Linked DNA regions of Homo sapiens. The protein of the gene in region 3 purifies or fractionates together with the protein of the main gene of each other region. This does not show direct contact. Each region holds a gene or a part of one and is shown on either strand. Other genes may lie near its edges.

Region 1 (7,029 bases), on a different chromosome or scaffold from region 3:
CAGTGTGTGTTTAATAGTAATTTAACAAGAAAAATAAGATCTCAGATGCTTTATCAAGCTCAGCTTCTTCTATGGAACAGAAAAACTTACCAATATTGGGGTTGAATCCTTGTGAAGAGTTATACATACCAAACTCTACCCTAACCCCATATGCTTATTACAAATTATAATTCCAAATTTTATCACCAAATCAAACTCAGAGTAATAGAAAAGAAATATTTAACACAAACTAATAATTAAAACACAAATTTCACCTATTGTTCAGGATATCTTTTTGAGAAAGGTTTTTGTTAAAGAAAATTTCAGATACAAACATAAAGAAAATTAAACAATCAATCCCCATATTCCCAGCTCTCAATAATGACCCACTCATAGCAATCTTTCAACTTACTTTTAATCCATATTTTGAATCCACAATAGTTATGATACCTACAAAGGAAAAAACATTTTAATCACTTTTTAAAAAGAATGTTTATTAATATTTGTACAACCATACTTCAAAATGAAAATTAAAACTAACCTATTTCAGTTCACAAATACTACTCAATAAAACAATGTACTGTTTTTTTCTCTTGCCAGTGCTGCCATTTAATTAAATTCCAGTAATAAGTCAATGCATTTCCTGAGTGGCTAGCACTATTTTAAGGCACTAGAAACGATATAAAACAAATAAAAATTTTAAATTAAATAAATAAGAAAATAAGATTTCCTTGGCACTGAAAAAGCTTACAATCCAAAATATAAGTCAAATTTCATAACATAGTCAAATGTGATAAGTACATAAGACAGGTTATTTCTAGTTTATTTTCACATAATCAAAATCAAGACTTTTCTTAAGATTTAAATTATTGCCTAAAGAATGAGACATCTTAAGGTATCATTCCTAACATCTCTCACCAAATCCAAATCCAACTCATAAATGTTCTACATAACATATGCCTAAGTTTCCAAACTACCAATTCATTTTGCAATCTCTGAATATATGCTGATAACAAAAGAATGAGTTTAATTATGCCTAAGGAATTCAACCAGTTACCCGCCACATATATTAGAGCTCAATGATGGGGCCCAGCTTAATAATTCTTAAATTTCTTAATGATTATTACTTTTGAAAAAGTAAGAAAATTTCGACTGAGAAAGGGAGAAAACATAGTCGCTTAACTAAGAAAGTTTCTAATATATTTTAAATGAAGGCATATCATTGCCCAAAAGTGTTCAGGTAAATAAAGTAAGACAGGAGTGTTTAATTCTTATCTTCAAGAGAAAATAAAAGCAAAAATATGATCCTCATATTGCCTGGAGGATTAAAATAAAAGGCTCTAACATTATATTAAGGGCATAAATCAAACAACAGAGGATACAGAAAACCTACAAAGCATTTTTTTTTTTAAAGAAAACCTTAGTGGAAGCACTAAATTGGAAGTTGAGTGACATCGAGTTCCACCACTGTCTGGGGTTTTTTAATCTATATGAACAAAGATTTCATCATTAAACTAAAGTGTGAAAAGAACAACAATGCAAGGAATTAAAGTTATAATATGAATGAACAACAACAATAAGCTTAACCATAAAGATTTTACTAAAAAACAAAAGAGGCAGGGTGTGGTGGCTCACGCCTGTAATCCCAGCACTTTGGGAGGCCGAGGCTGGCGGATCACCTGAAGTCAGGGGTTCAAGACCAGTCAGGCCAACATGGCGAAACCCCGTCTCTACTAAAAATCCAAAAATTAGCCAGGTACGATGGTGCACGCCTGTAGTCCCAGCTACTCGGGAGGCTGAGGCAAGAGAATCACTTGAACCCAGGAGGTAAAGGTTGCAGTGAGCCGAGATCATGCCACTGCACTCCATGCACTCCAGTCTGGGCAACAAAGTGAGACTCTGTCTCAGAAAAAAAAAAAAAAACAAGAAAGATAAAAGAAAACTGTTTTTTAACTTACCATCAAGATAAATATCACTCCCTAATTCAGCATCAACCCAAAACATAGAAGCCACTGCACCTGAAAATATATAATATTCATCAAATAAAAATATTTCTTCACACTGAGAAACATGATTCTATCCATGTTTTAATTTGCCCTGATAAAATTAACAGGTAAACACATATATCTTCTTATGGAAATTATAGTGATAGAAGCTTTAACTATTTATAGCAAAAGGGAATTATAGTGATAGAACCTTTTACTATTTATACCCATTCCATTTCCATCTCTCTTGTTATTTCCTTTAAAAAAGACCAATTCTAACCACATATAAACAAAACATCATTCTTCTACCGATGCCATAATAATTTAATTAACAGATATTATCAAACAATTTGAGCAGTATGGCTTTGTGCACATCAGACTTATTTTTATTTTCTCACCTCTTTAATATGATAATCATTCAATCATAAATAGTGAATTATCACTCTAAAGGAAAAGGAAAACAAAACATAGATAATTCCAAAATCACTTGCCCAAAAAAAATTTACTTGTAATCTGTGTAGAACTAGAAGTAAAATTATATACTCTATGGCATTACTAATTATTCCTCACACTATTTATTTAGTACTGTATAAAACCTGGGTCTTAGGAAAAATTTTTCCTAAATAATAAATTAAAACTTGCTTTTGACAGAAATTGGTTCAGTACCAAACCACATACCCTGATTAGTATGCCACAACGCAAGAAAAAGAAAACTGACAGCAAGGAAAGTATTTGATTTTTGAAAGCATCACAGGCCCAGTTAGTGACAGGGCTGTCTAAAAGAATGAGTGTAGGAGAAAAACAAGGATAATCAAACTCATTCCAGCGTCTAAAGCTGTCCACCTACTCTGCCAAGATGTGGTCCCCCAAGCATCACTCGGTGTCAACAATGAAATACCTGTCAGCTGTTTACAGTGATTACTCATGCAAGATATAGCAAGGGCCACAAGATCTAATGGTTTCCTGATACCTATTGATTTTTTTCCCAAAAACTTAATAGTTTTCCAATTTGACTCAAATAGGATTTGTGAGTAACAGGGGCTGAATCAATGTCTGTTCTTTTCAAGGAAATTACTTTACCATGACAATTATTTAACTTAGAACTGGAGCGTGTCAGTCTCCAAAACGGGAAACAACTGAATTGCCAATAAGAATTTTGTTCACTTTCTTGGCTAAAACATGATTTTAATTAATGAGGGGGGAAATTAAATCTACTGTATCACTACTCCAAACAATAAGTCATTTAAAAAAGCATGAATTTTTTCACTCAGTAAAATATCTAACATACATAAATCATTTTGTAATTTTTAAAAATTCATTGATTTTTATTCCAATAAATAGTTTACAAATCCTACTGTTAATATTTGCCTCTTAAGTTGAAATGTAAGAGTATATTAATGCTTTATTCTAAAACTGGTATTTATCTTTGATATAATACTTGCCAGACTACATGAGAAAGATCTATTTAAAATTTGGATGTAGGTATTTAGGGGGAGTAAAGATGAATGAACAAAATTGATCAGTGGCTCTCAAATCAGGGTGCTTTTCTCCCCAGGGAATATTTGGCAATGTCTGAAGATGTTTTTGGTTGTCTTAACTAGGGGAATGCTACTGGCATCTAGTGGGTAGAAGCCAGGGATGTTGTTAAATATCCTACTCTGCACAGGGCAACCCCCTCACAACAAATAATTATCCAACCCAAAATGTTATTTGTGCTGACACTGAGAAAACCTGAACTACATTTTAGAATCTCCCTTCTTCAAAATCTAATAAAACAAAAAATAAAAACAAAAAATAAAACAAAAAGGCCAACATTTTATTAGCAGCAACCAAATATAAAAGGGCCTGCCATAAATTTTGAAGACTGATAGTCAAAATAAGAAACAAAGTTATATGTGATTGATGGTCATTCCCAACTCTACCCCTACCTCCAATAAGAGGTTGTAGGGAAATAGTTTACAAAATCCTAAACACTTACCAGAAATACACTCCAAAATGACAAAAAGTAGAGCCGAGGAATGAATAAGCAACACAAGGAAAAGTCAACAAAAAAATTTCAAGAGTGAGTTTTAACCATCTCTTTGCTTTGGGAAGGAGAAGGTCAGGTCACATTCTAGGGCTCAGAACAAAGAGAAATGAGAGCTCTGAGGTCGAATGATGTCCCCATACAAGGCAAAGGAATTTTATTCATAAGCAGTTGGGCAGACCCAAGAGTGAAATACTTGGTACTTCAAGAGAGCAGAGCCTAAAAGCCACATTGCCCCATTTGGCTCTCTGAATCACCACTTTTCCCTTCTCTTTCCCTCCACTCCAACAATATACAGCTTTCAAACTAGGGCTCAGGAGAAAAACAAACTTGGGTAAGGAGAGTGGAGTATTAAAAATATTTCCCATCAGCACCACATAGAAGTTCTCCCACATCAAGAAGAAACATGTATGCATATGTATTACAGCCTGACAAAAAGAAACACGCACATACAGGGAATAAAAAGCAAGAAAGAACACAAAATGAAGAAATGAATAGGGCACACAAGTGGCAAAGAACCCATTCTGGAAGGATACATAACCCAATAAAAACTAAAGAAAATTCTCAACAACTTCATCATAATGAAGAACTTGAAAACAATACAACCTTATAATAAACAAGCTCAAAAGCAAGAAGAAGCAGAATAAGATGAAAATGCGTTTGTAGCGCTAAAGAAACTTAGAGCCTATATAACACAATGACTTAACCAATTAATTCATTTAAAATATCAAAAACAGGACAGACACTGGAGAAAACAGAATTATTGACAAAAAGAAAGGCTTCAGATGATCACAGTAAATGCAAAGGTAAAAGACAAATCAAAGCAATTAGAATACATACGAACAACAAAAGAAAATTCAGTATTAAAAAAACTGGTGTCATGAAGTAGAGGATCTAATAATTTGACCAAAAAAAAGTATTCATGGTAATAAACAAGGAAAATGTTCTTAGAAGAACTAAGGGCATACTATAATTTAGGGAAAAATGATTATAAGTGACACTTAGATATACCTTGTTTATATTACTGAATTTCAAAAATAAAGAAGAAAACTCTCAGGCATTTTAGATTAAAAAAAAAAATTGCCTTCAAGGAGGTAGGGAGAAAAATCAGACTTTTCTACAGTAACACTAGATGTCCCAAAATAATAAAACAGGGACCACAAAGTTCTAATGAAAGTGTTCCCAAACAAGTTATTTTTCAGGAACGAAAGCAATAGACAGACATTCTCAAGCATTAAAGAAAACAGCAAGCATTGAAACTCAGAGACTATAATACTCACAAATTCTTCCTAATAAAAAGAGAAAACATTGGACAAAGAAATCCAGCCAATCAAACACTAGGAGATTATGGAACAACATTTACAAAGTTGAGGGGGAATAAAGTGTGACTGATAAATTTTATACCTAGCCAAGTAATCCTTCAAGTAATATAAAAACAAAAGACAAATATTTTGAATCAATGAAGTGTATAAGAACCCAAAGAATGCATGCAGTACCTGTAACTTGAAAAGACTGCCTGACAATGAAATTCAATCAGGAGATGGACTAACTCGGGAATGGAGAAGCAACAGTACTGGTAATAAGCACCAAAACTATTAAAACATAGAACTAAAAGAATTATGACAGAACCATGACAACATAAAGAATATGATCAACATGAAACTAGGCCAATTAATATCCTACAATGGCCTGTAAGTGTTCAAGTGAAAGGAACAGTCACCTGTTTCTCACTTTAAATCAAGAGCTAGAAATGATTATGCTTAGTGAGGAAGTTATGTTGAAAGCCAAGATACGCCAAAAGCTAGGTCTCTTGAGCCAGTTAGCTAAGTTGTGAATGCAAAGGAAAAGTTCTTGAAGGAAATTAAAAGTGCTACTCCAGTAAACACACAAATGATAATAAAACAGCCTTATTGCTGATATGAAGTGGTCTGGATAGATGATCAAACAAGCCACAATGTTCCCTTAAGCCAAAGCCTAATTCAGAGCAACCCTAACTCTCTTCAGTTCTATGAAGGCTGAGAGAGGTGAGGAAGCTAGAGAAGAAAAGTTGGAAGGTAGCAGAGGTTGGTTCACAAGATTTAAAGAAAGAAGCCATCTCCATAACATAAAAGTGCAAGGGAAAGCAGCAAATGCTGATATAGAAGCTGTAGTAAACTACCTAGAAGATGTAGCTAACATCATTCATGAAAGTAGCTACACTAAGCAACAGACTTATTTTTTATTTATTTATTTATTTATTTTGAGATGGAGTCTCGCTCTGTCACCCAGGCTGGAGTGCAATGTGCAATCTCAGCTCACTGCCACCTCCGTCTCCCGGGTTCAAGCCATTCTCCTACCTCAGCCTCCCAAGTAACTGGGATTACAGGCTCCCACCACCAAGCCAGGCTAATTTTTGGTATTTTTAGCTGAGATGGGGTTTCACTATGTTGGCCAGGCTGGTCTTGAACTCCTGAACTCGTGAACTGCCCACCTCGGCCTCCCAAAGTGCTGAGATTACAGGCATGAGCCACCGAGCCCGGCCAGCAACAGATTTTTAATGGAGATGAAATGGCCTCCTTTTGGAAGAAGATGCCATTTAGGACTTTCATAGCTATAGAGAAGTCAATGCCTGGCTTCAAAGATTCAAAGGACAGGCTGACTCTCTTGTTAGAGGCTAAAGCAGCTGGTGACTTCAAGTTGAAGCCAATAATCATTTACTATCCTAAAAATTCTAGGGCCATTAAGAATTATGCTAAATCTCCTCTGCCTGTTTTCTATAAATAATAAAGCCTAGATGACAGCACATCTGTTTACAGCACGGTTTAGTTTAAGCCCACCATTGAGATCTACTGCTTAGAAAAGAAAAGATTCCTTCAAAATATTATTGCTCATTGACAACGCACCTGATCACCCAAGAGCTGTGATGGAGATGTACAAGATTAATGTTGTTTTCATGCCTGCTAACACAACATCCATTCTGCAGCCCACTGATCAAGGAGTAACTTTGACTTTTAAGTCTTATTTAAGAAATATATTTCATAAGGCTATAGCTACCATAGA
Region 2 (7,029 bases), on a different chromosome or scaffold from region 3:
ATCCCAGCTTTTTGGGAGGCTGAGGCAGGAGAATCGCTTGAACTTAGGAGGCAGAGGTTGTGGTGAGCCGAGATAGTGCCATTGCACTCCAGCCTGGGCAACAAGAGCAAAACTCTGTCTCGGGAAAAAAAAAAAGATCAAATTGTACCCTTTTTTTTTTTTTTTTTGAAACTGAGTCTTGCTCTATCGTCCAGGTTGGAGTGCAGTGGCACAATCTCAGCTCACTGCAGCCTCCACCTCCCGGGTTCAAGCAATTCTCCTGCCTCAGCCTCCCAAGTAGCTGGGATTATAGGTGCCTGCCACCACACCTGACTAATTTTTGTATTTTTTAGTAGAGATGAGGTTTCGCCATGTTGGCCAGGCTGGTCTCGAACTCCTGACCTCGGGTGATCCTCCCGCCTCGGCATCCCAAAATGCTGGGATTGCAGGCATGAGCCACCGCGCCTGGCTTTCTTTCCTTTTTTTTTTTTTTTGAGATGGAGTCTCCCTTTATTGCCCAGGCTGAGTGCAGTGGCACCATCTCGGCTCACTGCAACCTCCACCTCCCAGGTTCAAGCAATTCTCCTGCCTCAGCTTCCTGAGTAGCTGGGATTACAGGCACCCACCACCACACCCAGCTAATTTTTGTATTTTTTTAGTAGAGATGGGGTTTCGCCATATTGGTCAGGCTGGTCTCAAACTCCTGGCCCCAAGTGATCTGCCTGCCTCAGCCTCCCAAAGTGCTGGGATTACAGGTGTGAGCCAGCGAGCCACCAGGCCTAGCCTTTTTCTTTTCTTTTTTTTTTTTTTTTTTTTTTTTGAGACAGGGTCTCGCTCTGTCACCCAGGCTGGAGTACAGTGGCACAACCACCTCCCGGGTTCAAGCGATTCTACCACCTCAGCCTCCCAAGCAGCTAGGATTACAGGCATGAGCCACTGCACCCAGCTAATTATTTTGTCTTTGTTTTTTTGGTTTTTTTTGAGACAGAGTCTTGCTCTGTAGCACAGGCTGGAGTGCAGTGGCACGATCTCACTCACTGCTACCTCCTCCTGGGTTCCGGTTCAAGGAATTCTCCTGCCTCAGCCTCCTGAATAGCTGGGATTACAGGCATGTGCCACCATGCCCAGCTAATTTTTGTATTTTTAGTAGAGACGGGGTTTCATCATGTTGGCCAGGCTGGTCTGGAACTCCTGACCTCGTGATCCACCCACCTTGGCCTCCCAAAGTGCTGGGATTACAGGCGTGAGCCACCATGCCCAGCCTAATTATTTTGTATTTTTGCTAGAGATGGGGTTTTGCCATGTTGGCCAGGCTGGTCTCAAACTCCTGGCCTCAAGTAATCTGCCCGCCTCAGCCTCCCAAATTCTGGGATTACAGGCATGAGCCACCGTGCCCAGCCCAAATCGTACTTTTAAAGACGTAAATTATAATAACTACAATGTCTGAGATGAAAATTGCACTCTATAAGAATAATGGTAAAGTAGACAATACGGAAGAAAATAGTCAACTTGAAGATAGCAATAGAACCTGTCCAGCTCTCCCTCTCCCTCTCCCCCTCCCCCTCTCCCTCCTCTTTCCACGGTCTCCCTCTGATGCCGAGCCGAAGCTGGACTGTACTGCTGCCATCTCGGCTCACTGCAACCTCCCTGCCTGATTCTCCTGCCTCAGCCTGCCGAGTGCCTGCGATTGCAGGCGCGCGCCGCCACGCCTGACTGGTTTTCGTATTTTTTGGGTGGAGACGGGGTTTCGCTGTGTTGGCCGGGCTGGTCTCCAGCTCCTAACCGCGAGTGATCCGCCAGCCTCGGCCTCCCGAGGTGCCGGGATTGCAGGAGTCTCCTTCACTCAGTGCTCAATGGTGCCCAGGCTGGAGTGCAGTGGCGTGATCTCGGCTCGCTACAACATCCACCTCCCAGCAGCCTGCCTTGGCCTCCCAAAGTGCCGAGATTGCAGCCTCTGCCCGGCCGCCACCCTGTCTGGGAAGTGAGGAGCGTCTCTGCCTGGCCGCCCATTGTCTGGGATGTGAGGAGCCCCTCTGCCTGGCTGCCCAGTCTGGAAAGTGAGGAGCATCTCTGCCCGGCCGCCATCCCATCTAGGAAATGAGGAGCGCCTCTTCCCGGCCGCCATCCCATCTAGGAAGTGAGGAGCGTCTCTGCCCGGCCACCCATCGTCTGAGATGTGGGGAGCGCCTCTGCCCTGTCGCCCCGTCCGGGATGTGAGGAGCGTCTCTGCCCGGCCACCCCGTCTGAGAAGTGAGGAGCGTCTCTGCCCGGCCACCCCGTCTGAGAAGTGAGGAGACCCTCTGCCTGGCAACCGCCCTGTCTGAGAAGTGAGGAGCCCCTCCGCCCAGCAGCCACCCCGTCTGAGAAGTGAGGAGCCCCTCCGCCCGGCAGCCACCCCGTCTGGGAAGTGAGGAGCGTCTCCACCCGGCAGCCACCCCGTCCGGGAGGGAGGTGGGGGGGTCAGCCCCCCACCTGGCCAGCCGCCCCGTCCGGGAGGTCAGGGGCGCCTCTGCCCGGCCGCCCCTACTGGGAAGTGAGGAGCCCCTCTGCCTGGCCAGCCGCCCCGTCCGGGAGGGAGATGGGAGCGTCAGCCCCCCGCCCGGCCAGCCGCCCCGTCCGGGAGGTGAGGGGCGCCTCTGCCCGGCCGCCCCTACTGGGAAGTGAGGAGCCCCTCTGCCCGGCCACCACCCCGTCTGGGAGGTGTACCCAACAGCTCATTGAGAACGGGCCATGATGACAATGGCAGTTTTGTGGAATAGAAAGGGGGGAAAGGTGGGGAAAAGATTGAGAAATCGGATGGTTGCCGTGTCTGTGTAGAAAGAGGTAGACATGGGAGACTTTTCATTTTGTTCTGTACTAAGAAAAATTCTTCTGCCTTGGGATCCTGTTGATCTGTGACCTTACCCCCAACCCTGTGCTCTCTGAAACATGTGCTGTGTCCACTCAGGGTTAAATGGATTAAGGGCGGTGCAAGATGTGCTTTGTTAAACAGACGCTTGAAGGCAGCATGCTCGTTAAGAGTCATCACCACTCCCTAATCTCAAGTACCCAGGGACACAAACACTGCGGAAGGCCGCAGGGTCCTCTGCCTAGGAAAACCAGAGACCTTTGTTCACTTGTTTATCTGCTGACCTTCCCTCCACTATTGTCCTGTGACCCTGCCAAATCCCCCTCTGCGAGAAACACCCAAGAATGATCAATAAAAAAATAAATAAATAAATAAATAAATAAATAAAAAGAACCTATCCAAAATGAAACACACAGGAAAAAAAAAAAGAATGGAAAGAAATTAAGAGCATCAGTGGGCCGTAGGACAATTTCAAGTGGTCTAATGTACAGTAACTGGAGTACTGGCAAGAGAAGAGAGTGGAGGAACAGAAAAATATTTGAAGAAATTATAGCCAAAAACTTTCCAAACTTGGTGAAAACTATAAATCCATAGATCTAAGAAGCTCAACAAAACCCAAACTCAATGAACTACAACAAAGCACATCACAATCAAATTGCTCAAAACCAGTGACAAAGAAAAAAATCTTTAAAGCAGCCAGAGGAAAAAAAACAAAACATCATGTAGAGAGGAACAAAGGATAACAACAGGTTTCTCACTGGAAACAAAGCAAGCAAGAGTGCGACTCCATCTCAAAAAAAAAGAAAAAAATGATTTTGGCTGGGCATGGTGGCTCACGCCTGTACTCCCAGCACTTAGGGAGACCGAGGCAGGTGGATGACTTGAGGTCAGGAGTTCCAGAACAGCCTAGCCAACATGGTGAAACCCTGTATCTACTAAAAATACAAAAAAAAAAATTAGCCTGGCATGGTAGCGGGCGCCCGTAATCCCAGCTGCTCGGGAGGCCGAGGCAAGAGAATCGCTTGAACCCAGGAGGTGGAGGTTGCAGTGACCTGAGATAGTGCCACTGCACTCCAGCCTGGGCTACAGAGCGAGACTCCATCTCAAAAAAAAAAAAAATAATAAGTGAAATAAATACTTCTTCACTTCTTCAGACATACAAAAGATAAAAGAATTCATTACCAGCGAACCCACATGACAAAAATCTTCAAGGAACTCCTTCAGGCAGAAGAAAAATGTTAACAGATGGAAATATGGATCCACATAAAGAAATAGAGAAACCAAAATGGTAACTACATGGATAAATATACACAATTCTTTCCAAAAATCTAGCTATAAAGGGGGCGAGGAAGGTAGGGTAGATTCGCTACAGGCAAGGAAGACTAAGGGAGGTTTCTATTTTGCTATTTGGAACATAGGAGCAATCTGAGGATACACAAAGCTGATGAGAAAGCAGGTAAGAAGGGGCTGGGCGCGTGGCTCACACCTGTAATCCCAGTACTTTGGGAGGCCAAGGAGGGCGGATCCCTTGAGGTCAGGAGTTCGAGACCAGCTTGGCCAACATGTTGAAATCCCGTCTGTACTAAAAATACAAAAATTAGCCAGATGTGGCGGCATGCACCGGTAATCCCAGCTACTTGGGAGGCTGAGGCAGGAGAATCACTTGAACCTGGGAGGCAGAGGCTGCAGTGAGCCGAGAATCACGCCACTGCACTCCAGCCTGGGTGACAGAGCAAGGCTCTGTATCCAAAAAAAAAAAAAAAAAGGCAGGTAAGAAGGGAGAGGTGGCAATGGAGGTTACATAGGACAGAGTTTAAGGCTTGGGCAGCAAAGTGAGTCTTTAGCAGAAGGTCAAGCACTTCTGTGACTACAATCCAGAGAAGCGGCTGGGTGCCTGGGAAGGGAGCTTTGCCAAATTGGTGGAGGGGCGGGATCACATTGGCGGTATTTCTATAGCCTTTTATTTCTATAGCCTTTGGTTAATGAGTGTGTATTGCCTGTATGATCAGAAGAAAAAACAAACACACATGTTTTCTGTGTCAGCCACAAGACAAAGCAGGAAATGAAGCCAGAGAGGCTAAGAGTCTGGAAAAGAAAGGATGCCAGGTTTGGGGTCCAACCCAACTCCCAAACACCACAGTTCTTCAGAGATTTGCTCTTGCTACCTAATCAACATTCTAGATTCCACAAGTAAATGAAGAATGCCAAAACGAAGAACCTCAGGATAAAAAAATCAGGGCACAAATTTTAATCTGGTTCTCTCTGATGACCCTCAGATAGCCCCTGCACAAAATCAAAAGGGAATGTAAGTGGTGCATGGAGCTGGTATTTTAAGTTCAAGAGTGTTGTCCCCTCCATCCCCCTGCACATTGTAAAAATATTTAAGTACACAGTACAGATTAGGAACAAAAAAATCTTATGCCTTCAGGTACCAACGTTTTCATTTAGGAATTAGGAAGAAAAGAAACACTGAATTATTCCACACGAAAATAAAAATGTCATACTATGTGACAGTCATTGAACCCTCCCTTGGTAATGTGCTTTTATTTTTTATTTTCTTTGAGACAGAGTCTTGCTCTGTTGTCCGGGCTGGAGTGCAGTGGCACGATCTCAGCTCACTGCAGCCTCCATCTCCTGGGTTCAAGCAATTCTCCTGCCTTAGCCTCCCAAATAGCTGGGATTACAGATGCGCACCACCACACCTGGCTACTTTTTTTATTTTTAGTAGAGATGGGGTTTCACCATGTTGGCCAGGCTGGTCTCAAACTTCTGGCCTCAAATGATCCAGCCACCTCGGCCTCCCAGTGTGCTGGGATTACAGGCGTGAGCCACTGCACCCGACTGGTAATGTGCCTTTTAAGAGACTGCAGTTTGAGCTATACATAAAGTGATAATTATTGCATCACTGGCAGCAAAGAAGTTGTCTGAAGGACAAGTGTGAGGGCACCATGCCAATTCTGCCAGGGAGCCCTAGCCTAGGTCAGCACCTTCACACCCTTCCAGCTTTTCTCAGAAGGCTCTTTACCAGCTGCAGGTGTTTTCACAATGGCTTCTGGCAGGAAAGGCAAATGAGGAGGGACCAAAAACAGTCAAGGGTTGGAGGGACAGCAATCCATACTTTCCATAGGCAATACTGTGTGCTCATTTAGCAAATGGAGACAATACCACCAAAATGTAGAAAATTATGAGGCTACTGTGAAGATTAAATGAGAAAAGATGTGTATGGTCCCTGCCACAGGTTAAACACTCCATAAATGGCTGTGGTGATGATGATGATTATGATGAGTGGTGTTTACAATTCAAAGAGATGGAAAGGCACAATAACTAAGTTCTATTAATTAACCTGCACACTGGGCTTGCTGGTTCATACCTGTAATCCTAACACTTTGGGAGGCCAAGGCAGGCAGATTACTTGAGGTCAGGAATTCAAGACCAGCCTGGCCAACATGGTGAAACCCCATCTCTACTAAAAAATACAAAAATTAGGCCAGGCGCAGTGGCTCACGCCTGTAATCCCAGCACTTTGGGAGGTCAAGGCGGGCAGATCACCTGAGGTCAGGAGTTCGAGACCAGCCTGGCCAACATGGCGAAACCCCATCTCTACTAAAAATACCAAAAATTAGCCGGGGTGTAGTGACGGGTGCCTGTAATCCCAGCTACTCAGGAAGCTGAGACAAGAGAATCGCTTGAACCCGGGAGGCAGAGGTTGCAATGAGCCAAGATCGCACCATTGCTCCAGCCTGAGCAACAAGAGCAAAACTCCATCTCAAAAAAAAAAAAAAAAATTAGCCAGGCATGGTGGCGCATGCCTGTAATCCCAGCTACTCGGGAGGCTGAGGCAGGAGAATCATTTGAACCCAGGAGGTGGAGGTTGCAGTGAGCCAAGATGGTGCCACTGCACTCCAGCCTGGGTGACAAGAGCAAGACTCCTTCTCAAAAAGAAAAAAAAAAATTTCACCTGCTAAACACATTCACAATCCATCTACTTTCCCCATCCCAACTAACACTTCTCAGCAAAGGCCACAGCCAATTCTTGTCTGGGCAACTACTGTAGCCACCTAAACTGGTCTCCCTGGTCAGCCTGCTATCCCCCCTCCAGACCCTGACCTTCACAGCAATACAAGTGAAACTGAAAGATAAAAGGCATATCTGATCATGTCACTCCCCTGCTAAAACTCTTTCAGTGGCTTCCCCTACCCTGT
Region 3 (7,029 bases):
GAATGTACAGAACTTGAGGACAGATTGTATATGTGAGTGAGAAGGTAGGTCAAAGTCATGTTTAGGCTTAAAAATTTGAGTAGATGGAAGTATCATTTAGTGAGATAAGAAAACCAGAAAAAAGTTTGGAGAACGTTTAGTTTTCCTTGACAGAGGTATCATGTTCTAACAGAAATGGCCACAGGCAGTATGCCCTGCCTTCCACATGGCCTTCCTAAACCGGTAAGTTCCTGAGGCTAGAAGCACTATCTTTATTAAGACTTAAGGCCCACCTCTGTCTCAAAACTTATCATGATATTTTGCACATTGCAATTGATCAATAAGATTTATTTTTTTATTCTGGTTTTCTACATTATTACTTCTACCAAATTGGAATTGAAACAATTAATAAACTATAGTGGAAAAAGTATTGAAAATTTATGTTAAAATATTTTTACCTCATCTACCATTTATTTACTTACACAATTATGTATTTAGTATTCATTTATTTCATAGCTAGTATTTATTTAAATGAATAATCAAAAAATAATTATTATAGTTATATATGATTATATAATAATGCTGTAGATTTTAAACAGATTCTGGGGTACTACATATAAATATTTTATTTTATAATAAATAATTCTAACATTTATAATTTAATAGATTTAATAGAATAATATGTATCGTATTATTTGAAAGAATGTGACTTTTTAAATAGTTATTTTGAATATTGGATATTTTATTTTGAAGATTCATAGTTTTACATTTATAAGCTTCAGTATTAGTAAGCATTAATGTTAAGAAACTATTTTATAGAGCAAAGTAGTATTTGCTCAAGAGAAGAAATTTAGAGAATGGTTGCAGACATTGGGCAAATCAGCCAATTTTCTTTATACCTTTGTCCAATACTTAAAAATTTATGAGAGGGAGAGAGACAGGGAAAGAGAAAAAGAGACAGAGAGTGATAATATGGTAGAAAAAAAAGAAAACAAAACTGGTGACTCTAACTGACAGATATGTAAGAGTTTACCGTATCAGTCTTTCAGTTTTCCATGGGTTCTACATTATTCAAAATGAAAGTAAATATGTTTGATACAATGGTTTTCTGAAATGACTTTGCATATTCAAGTTCTTCAGCAGGTTTTAGTTCCTGAGAGAATATTTTGGATATGTAAGCAGCAAAAATCAGTCCAAATGCAAATACAAAAAAAGAAATGATACAGTTTGCAATGTTAATTGTTTAACAAATAGTAATAATTATCACTGGACATCTAATTCAGTTGTGGATAATAAGATACTGAGGTTTAAAAGATGCACCACTATGACATGACCCACCACTTTAAAGGATATTAAGTTTAATTCAGTGATTCCGAATATTTTGTTTATATCTTTGTAGTTTCAGTTCTACTGGAAATTCACTTTTACTGTTATAGTAAATATTTCTTTCATAAATTTCAATATTTATGAATTTCAAATATATATGATATATCAGTATTTTAGATAAAAGTAAGGTACCACCACCTTGGAATAAGACTACTGACAGCTAGTAAGAAAGAATAATCATATTTAGACTATATATTATACACATATTATTTATGCATTTATTATGTATTATATGCATTAGTATACATTAGTATATATGTAACATATTTTTGATGTATTTTATTTCTGCACAGATTGTCAAGGCCATTGAGGATTTGCAAATAAACTTGTATCATGATGTGGTCTTCACAGTTATTTTTTTTTTTTTTTGTGAGAAAGAATTTAAGAGTAGGACCTATACTAAATATCTGCTTTTCAAATAGATATTTCAATATTTATGACTTATTTTTTATGAAAAAAACCATAAATACTTAATTAAACACCATGTTTTAAACATAAAGTCATGTTTTTAATTTTGTATTGTTTTTAATGTTTTGTTTTTTTGTGTTCTTCATTCTCTTTTATTTCTCTCTTTTATATAAAATCACTCTCCCATGGTCCAGAAAATATGGTGCATTGATGTTCTCATCTCTTTAGTTGGCCAGTTAGCCTCTTGGTTATGAATATTAAATTCTGGACTATTTTGCATTTCCCCACACTATAGAAAAAGTGATAAATTCATTATTAGTTTAATAATTTCTATCCTCTTTCATTGGAACTTGTGATTTCTCTTTCTTGGCAGTATATCTAAGTTTAGCTGTTCACCTCACTTGTCACCTCAAAATATCCTAACACTACATCGTAACAAACAAACTCTATTTACTAAACCATCTCTGACACATGGATTAATATGGTTATAACCCAAACCAAATAAAGCAACCAATTAAGGTAATTCAGTAATAATTTATAAATTAGTACTCATGAAAATATGAATTAAATGTACAATGATCTACTTTTGTGACAAACCAGGTAATGAAGCTCTTCTGATGGTGAATATTGAGTTTAATTACCACTTGTCCTAAAGATGGCTAGAAGCTTACATGCTTGCCTTAGGCATTCTATTATGACTTTTCTCCCTGTCATGTAACTTGTGAAAAAAGTTCTTAAACACTATTTCAGTATAACTTTATTGGGATATCTCAATTTGTTCATTACAAAATATCTTTATAAAGTTCTTACAAATACAATGATTTTAGGATATCACCAAAATTAACTTAATTTGGGGTAAGATTGACATTCCTATGTGTTAACAAACTTTCAGAAAAAAATTATTTCTGTACAGAAGTGGGGAACATGTTCCCAAAGTCAGAAGTAGAAAAAACAGAAATAATTAAACCCCCGAATTATGTGATAATTACCTCATAATTACCTGGTAATATTGTTAGGTAGTTCTCTGCACAAAATTAAAGAAAACCTTTCTATCTTCCCATATGTTAAAATGCATAACAATGTGAAATGATGGATATGTTAAATTGTTCCACTACTGTAACCATATTACATCATGCTATACGCCTTAAATATACACAATATAGTTTTTTTTTTTTTTAATGAGGGGATATGAAGACTATGAAACAAGCTCAACACATTTGATAAAGAAAGTGATAAGAAAGTGGTTCTGGGTAATTCACCTATTGAAAAATTACAGAATTGTAGAACAGGACCTCAAATGCCATCTAGGTCAACTGTATCCTACTTTTAAAACACTTTGTGTATTACAAAAATCACATGTGTGAGTACAAAACATTTGTTTAATTTTAAGGTGTATAATGGCATGGCTTCATACCAGTATAAAATATAACTTAAAACTTTACCACATGTCCTTACCATATGGTAGGCACTATTCTAGGGATTTTACAAATATTAACTCACTCTATTTTTATAATAGACTGATGAGGTGACCTCTATAATAGTTTAGGAATCTGACGCACAAAAGAAGTTAAGTAACTTGCCTAAAGTCAAACATCTATAGCGTTAGTAGAAGGGCTGGGTGTTTTTGTTTTGTTTTTGTTTTTGTGTTTTTTTGAGACAGAGCCTCCCTCTGTTACCCAGGCTGGAGTGCAGTGGAGTCATCTAAGCTCACCGCAACCCCTGTCTCCCAGGTTCGAGAAATTCTCGTGCTTCAGCATCTAGAATAGCCAGGATTACAGATGTGTGCCACCCTGCCTGGCTAATTTTTGTATATTTTTAGTAGAGAAAGGGTTTCACCATGTTGTCCAGGCTGGTCTTGAACTCCCAACCTCAGGTGATCCGCCCTCCTCGGCCTCCCAAAGTGCTGGGATTATAGGCGTGAGCTACCGTGCCTGGCCAGGGCTAGAATTTTAACATCAGCGGTTTGGCTCTAGAGTCCATTTTTTTAACCACTATGAATATTGTCTCTTGACGTTATATATCCTAATTTGCTATATTGGTTGTTGGGTTTGGAGAAAATCTGATTTCATTTTCAAAGAACTGTTTTCCAAGTTATTTATTAGGATGAAATAAGTACTGTTTGAATTTTTTCAATAATATTCTTGTTCACATCTACATTTGTTAATAAGAGAACTTCATTTAGATGGTGTGACTGAAGTTTTATTCAATTAAGAAACACATCCTTTCAGATGATATATGTAATATGGACTTGAGTAGTGGTTTGAATAATTTATTCTGTCTTTATGAAATGAAAAATTACTCATTTAAATTAAGAAATTATATATTCTAAAAATAATGATTAAATTTTGCCCGTTTAAATGTATATGATAAGCAAAATAAAAATAGTGTGTTTAACAAAGACGAGTAATATTTTTTAGTCACAGGATTATTATACTATACCACTACACATAAGAATAATTGTGTTTATAAATGAAAGTAAGCTATATTTTAAAATAAATTGTATAGTTCTCATAAGAAAAAATATATAAAATATTTTTTCAGCAAATTTGAAAGTTAGGAGTTGAATCATTTGACAATGGTACATTTATATAGATAATAGAAAAAAGCCTAGAATCTCCAAGCTCCTATTCCAAAATTCTTCTATTATAATATTCCTTCTTATAGAAAATCATTTTTAAAATGTCTTCACTTGTAAGGCTTCCCATGTTGTTTACAAAAGACGGTACGCTTTAATCCCCTCAGTGAGCAACTCATATGATTGAGGCAACTCATACAGTATGTGAGGAATGTCCTTTTATGGATATCGTGATATTAAGAGTTCACTCATTGTATCACTGCTTTGAGCTACTTCAGAGCCCCAAAATTATTTCTCTATATCTCTCAGATAGAAATAGTTTAGGATTAAATACAAATAATGGGGTTATAGCTAGGAAAGTACATTAAAACCACCAGTGTTCTTATTCAAATACCAGAGAAATATGGTAGCTACTATTACTGATATATCTTAATACTGTAAATCTTAATCTTTTTTTCTAAAGATGTTTTGCTGAGTAAGAACTCATGCAAGTAAACCTTTCTCATTAGTCAGAATCTTTGCACTCTGTAGTGCTATGTGCTATGAATAATACAGTTTGAAAAGCTGATGAGGATAGAAAGAAAAATTGAATTCAAATATTTTTAGAATTTTCTGGTGTAGCATATAGACATTGCATCAGCAGCTTTGCATAAAGTGTCTTACACTGTACCATACTGGGATTATACGTCTTATTACTTTTTTTTGAATGATTATACTACAATGTATGCAGTTTCAAAGTCTATGAATAGTCTGCATTAGCTTAATTTATGTGCATATAATTTTGGAGGTATGACTTTCTTATGAATAAGACAGATGCACATTTAAATCTTTAAAGACCCTAGAAATAATGTAATTATGATTTTGTTTAAATAATCAGATATGCAGTTTTTTCCTAACAGAATAATGAAAAAAAATCTGGGAAAAGACATTACTCCTCACATCCACTCTCACACACACACATCTGTTCATGTATCAGTCTGTCTTTCTATCATCTCTCTGTCTCACTCTGTGTCTGTCTCTATATCTATATATATCTATAATAGGTATACACACATATACACACATATACATACATATATTTATGTATTCTTAAATCCACAGTTTTACTCCGTGTTTATGTAGATTATGGAAATAACTACATGAATATCTTTGCTTCATTTAAAGCATTTATTTAAGATAAATATACAATAAAATTAAATCTAGTATTAAAATTTGTAACACAATTTATGAAATATATGAAATACTTGAACTTATTAATTATTTATTTGCATCAGTCCAACTTTATAAAACATTCAACTTCTGATTTTTGCTCAATAGGCTTTAATGATCCACTGAATAAAATTGTTATGACAAAGTCTGTTATGACTCAATGTCTTATTTTCCATTAATATAAAAAAGGAACAAAGTATAAAAGATATACAGCTCTAAAAAAATAATTTTGGTTTGTATTTTATTATCTGCTGATAATACTAATTTAAAACAATGATATTAGATTAAAATTTAAAATTAGCCACCTCAACACCTTAACTGAGAGAAAGGAATCTTCTAGGAGTTAACTAATTGCCTGTGTATTTTGTCTAGGTGTTGAGGGAAAGCTGAGAGAATGAAGGCTCTAAATCCCCAGTGGAAGCATGATATGGCGAAGCAGAGCTGGTGCTGAATTGTTCTCTCTGATGGCTCTATGGGAGTGGATAGCACTGAGTCTTCATTGCTGGGTTTTAGCGGTTGCTGCTGTTTCGGATCAGCATGCCACAAGCCCCTTCGACTGGCTCCTCTCTGATAAGGGACCCTTCCATCGCTCACAGGAATACACAGATTTTGTGGACAGAAGCCGGCAGGGATTTAGCACAAGATACAAGATATACAGGTATGAAGCAAAGGGAAAGCAATTACAGAAATATCATCCTTGAAGGTTGTGTATACATAAGTTTCTCTAAGGGAAAGTTTCAGACGGGAAAAAGGTATTATCAGAAGGGTTGTTATTTACCATGCACCATAGTAATGTTTTCTTGCTATTCAAAGTATTTCTTATAGATGTAATATATTATGATAAAAACAGATAATGGTGACCACTTGTCTATCACTCCCAAATTTAAGCATGCTACACTGCCTTAAAGTAAATGGCAATGTATTTGGAAGCCGAGTTTCTTATTTTAAATAGCCAAAATTTTAAAGTGAAATTTAAAAAATTGCTTTTCCTTTCTACCTTATACAATGCTATGTTACCTTTTTCAGCCTAAATGGAAATGGTATCTTCTACTAGTCACTGAGAAGTTGAGTCACCTCATCCTTTTTTACCTGAAAGGTAATTGTACGTTCAGAAGCTAAAGGAAACAGCAATGGAATAAAAACAAGTAGCAGATAAATAGGACATGATAGCAAAGATCAAAGAAATGGATGGGATAAAGATATATGATCTTTAACATCTATCAATGTTCTATGTTTAAAATCTAAATAAGTTACACAAAAAGAGTAATATATTAAATTCAACAAAGGTTGCCTGTTCACCTGATGTCCCGTGAATACATTAAGTAGAAGAGTGTACAAGTGGTTGCCTGATGGATTAGATTATATTGATCTATGCCATGAAGAACATTTTATGTGAAGCTATCACTTCAATTTGTTTATTGGTGATAGACTTTTACAATTCCTAGTTAATGGTTTAACATTTATAAAGAAGC

What was found.
Region 1: the proteins of BRINP3 (region 3) and ZNG1A purify together in Homo sapiens (affinity purification with mass spectrometry; 2 studies listed by BioGRID and IntAct, with this or other methods). This does not show direct contact.
Region 2: the proteins of BRINP3 (region 3) and TXNDC15 purify together in Homo sapiens (affinity purification with mass spectrometry; 2 studies listed by BioGRID and IntAct, with this or other methods). This does not show direct contact.

What each region holds. Positions count from the first base shown.
Region 1 is NC_000009.12:162,041-169,069, forward strand, and holds part of ZNG1A (zinc-regulated GTPase metalloprotein activator 1A), read right to left. Parts: intron 2,409-7,029; exon of another isoform or gene 2,363-2,408; intron 1,998-2,362; coding exon 1,938-1,997; intron 430-1,937; coding exon 392-429; intron 1-391. UniProt on the Homo sapiens protein: Zinc chaperone that directly transfers zinc cofactor to target metalloproteins, thereby activating them.
Region 2 is NC_000005.10:134,877,358-134,884,386, reverse strand, and holds part of TXNDC15 (thioredoxin domain-containing protein 15 isoform 1 precursor), read right to left. Parts: intron 1-7,029. UniProt on the Homo sapiens protein: Acts as a positive regulator of ciliary hedgehog signaling. Involved in ciliogenesis.
Region 3 is NC_000001.11:190,453,841-190,460,869, reverse strand, and holds part of BRINP3 (BMP/retinoic acid-inducible neural-specific protein 3 isoform 1 precursor), read left to right. Parts: intron 1-5,929; 5' UTR 5,930-5,979; coding exon 5,980-6,215; intron 6,216-7,029. UniProt on the Homo sapiens protein: Inhibits neuronal cell proliferation by negative regulation of the cell cycle transition. Promotes pituitary gonadotrope cell proliferation, migration and invasion, when overexpressed. May play a role in cell pituitary tumor development.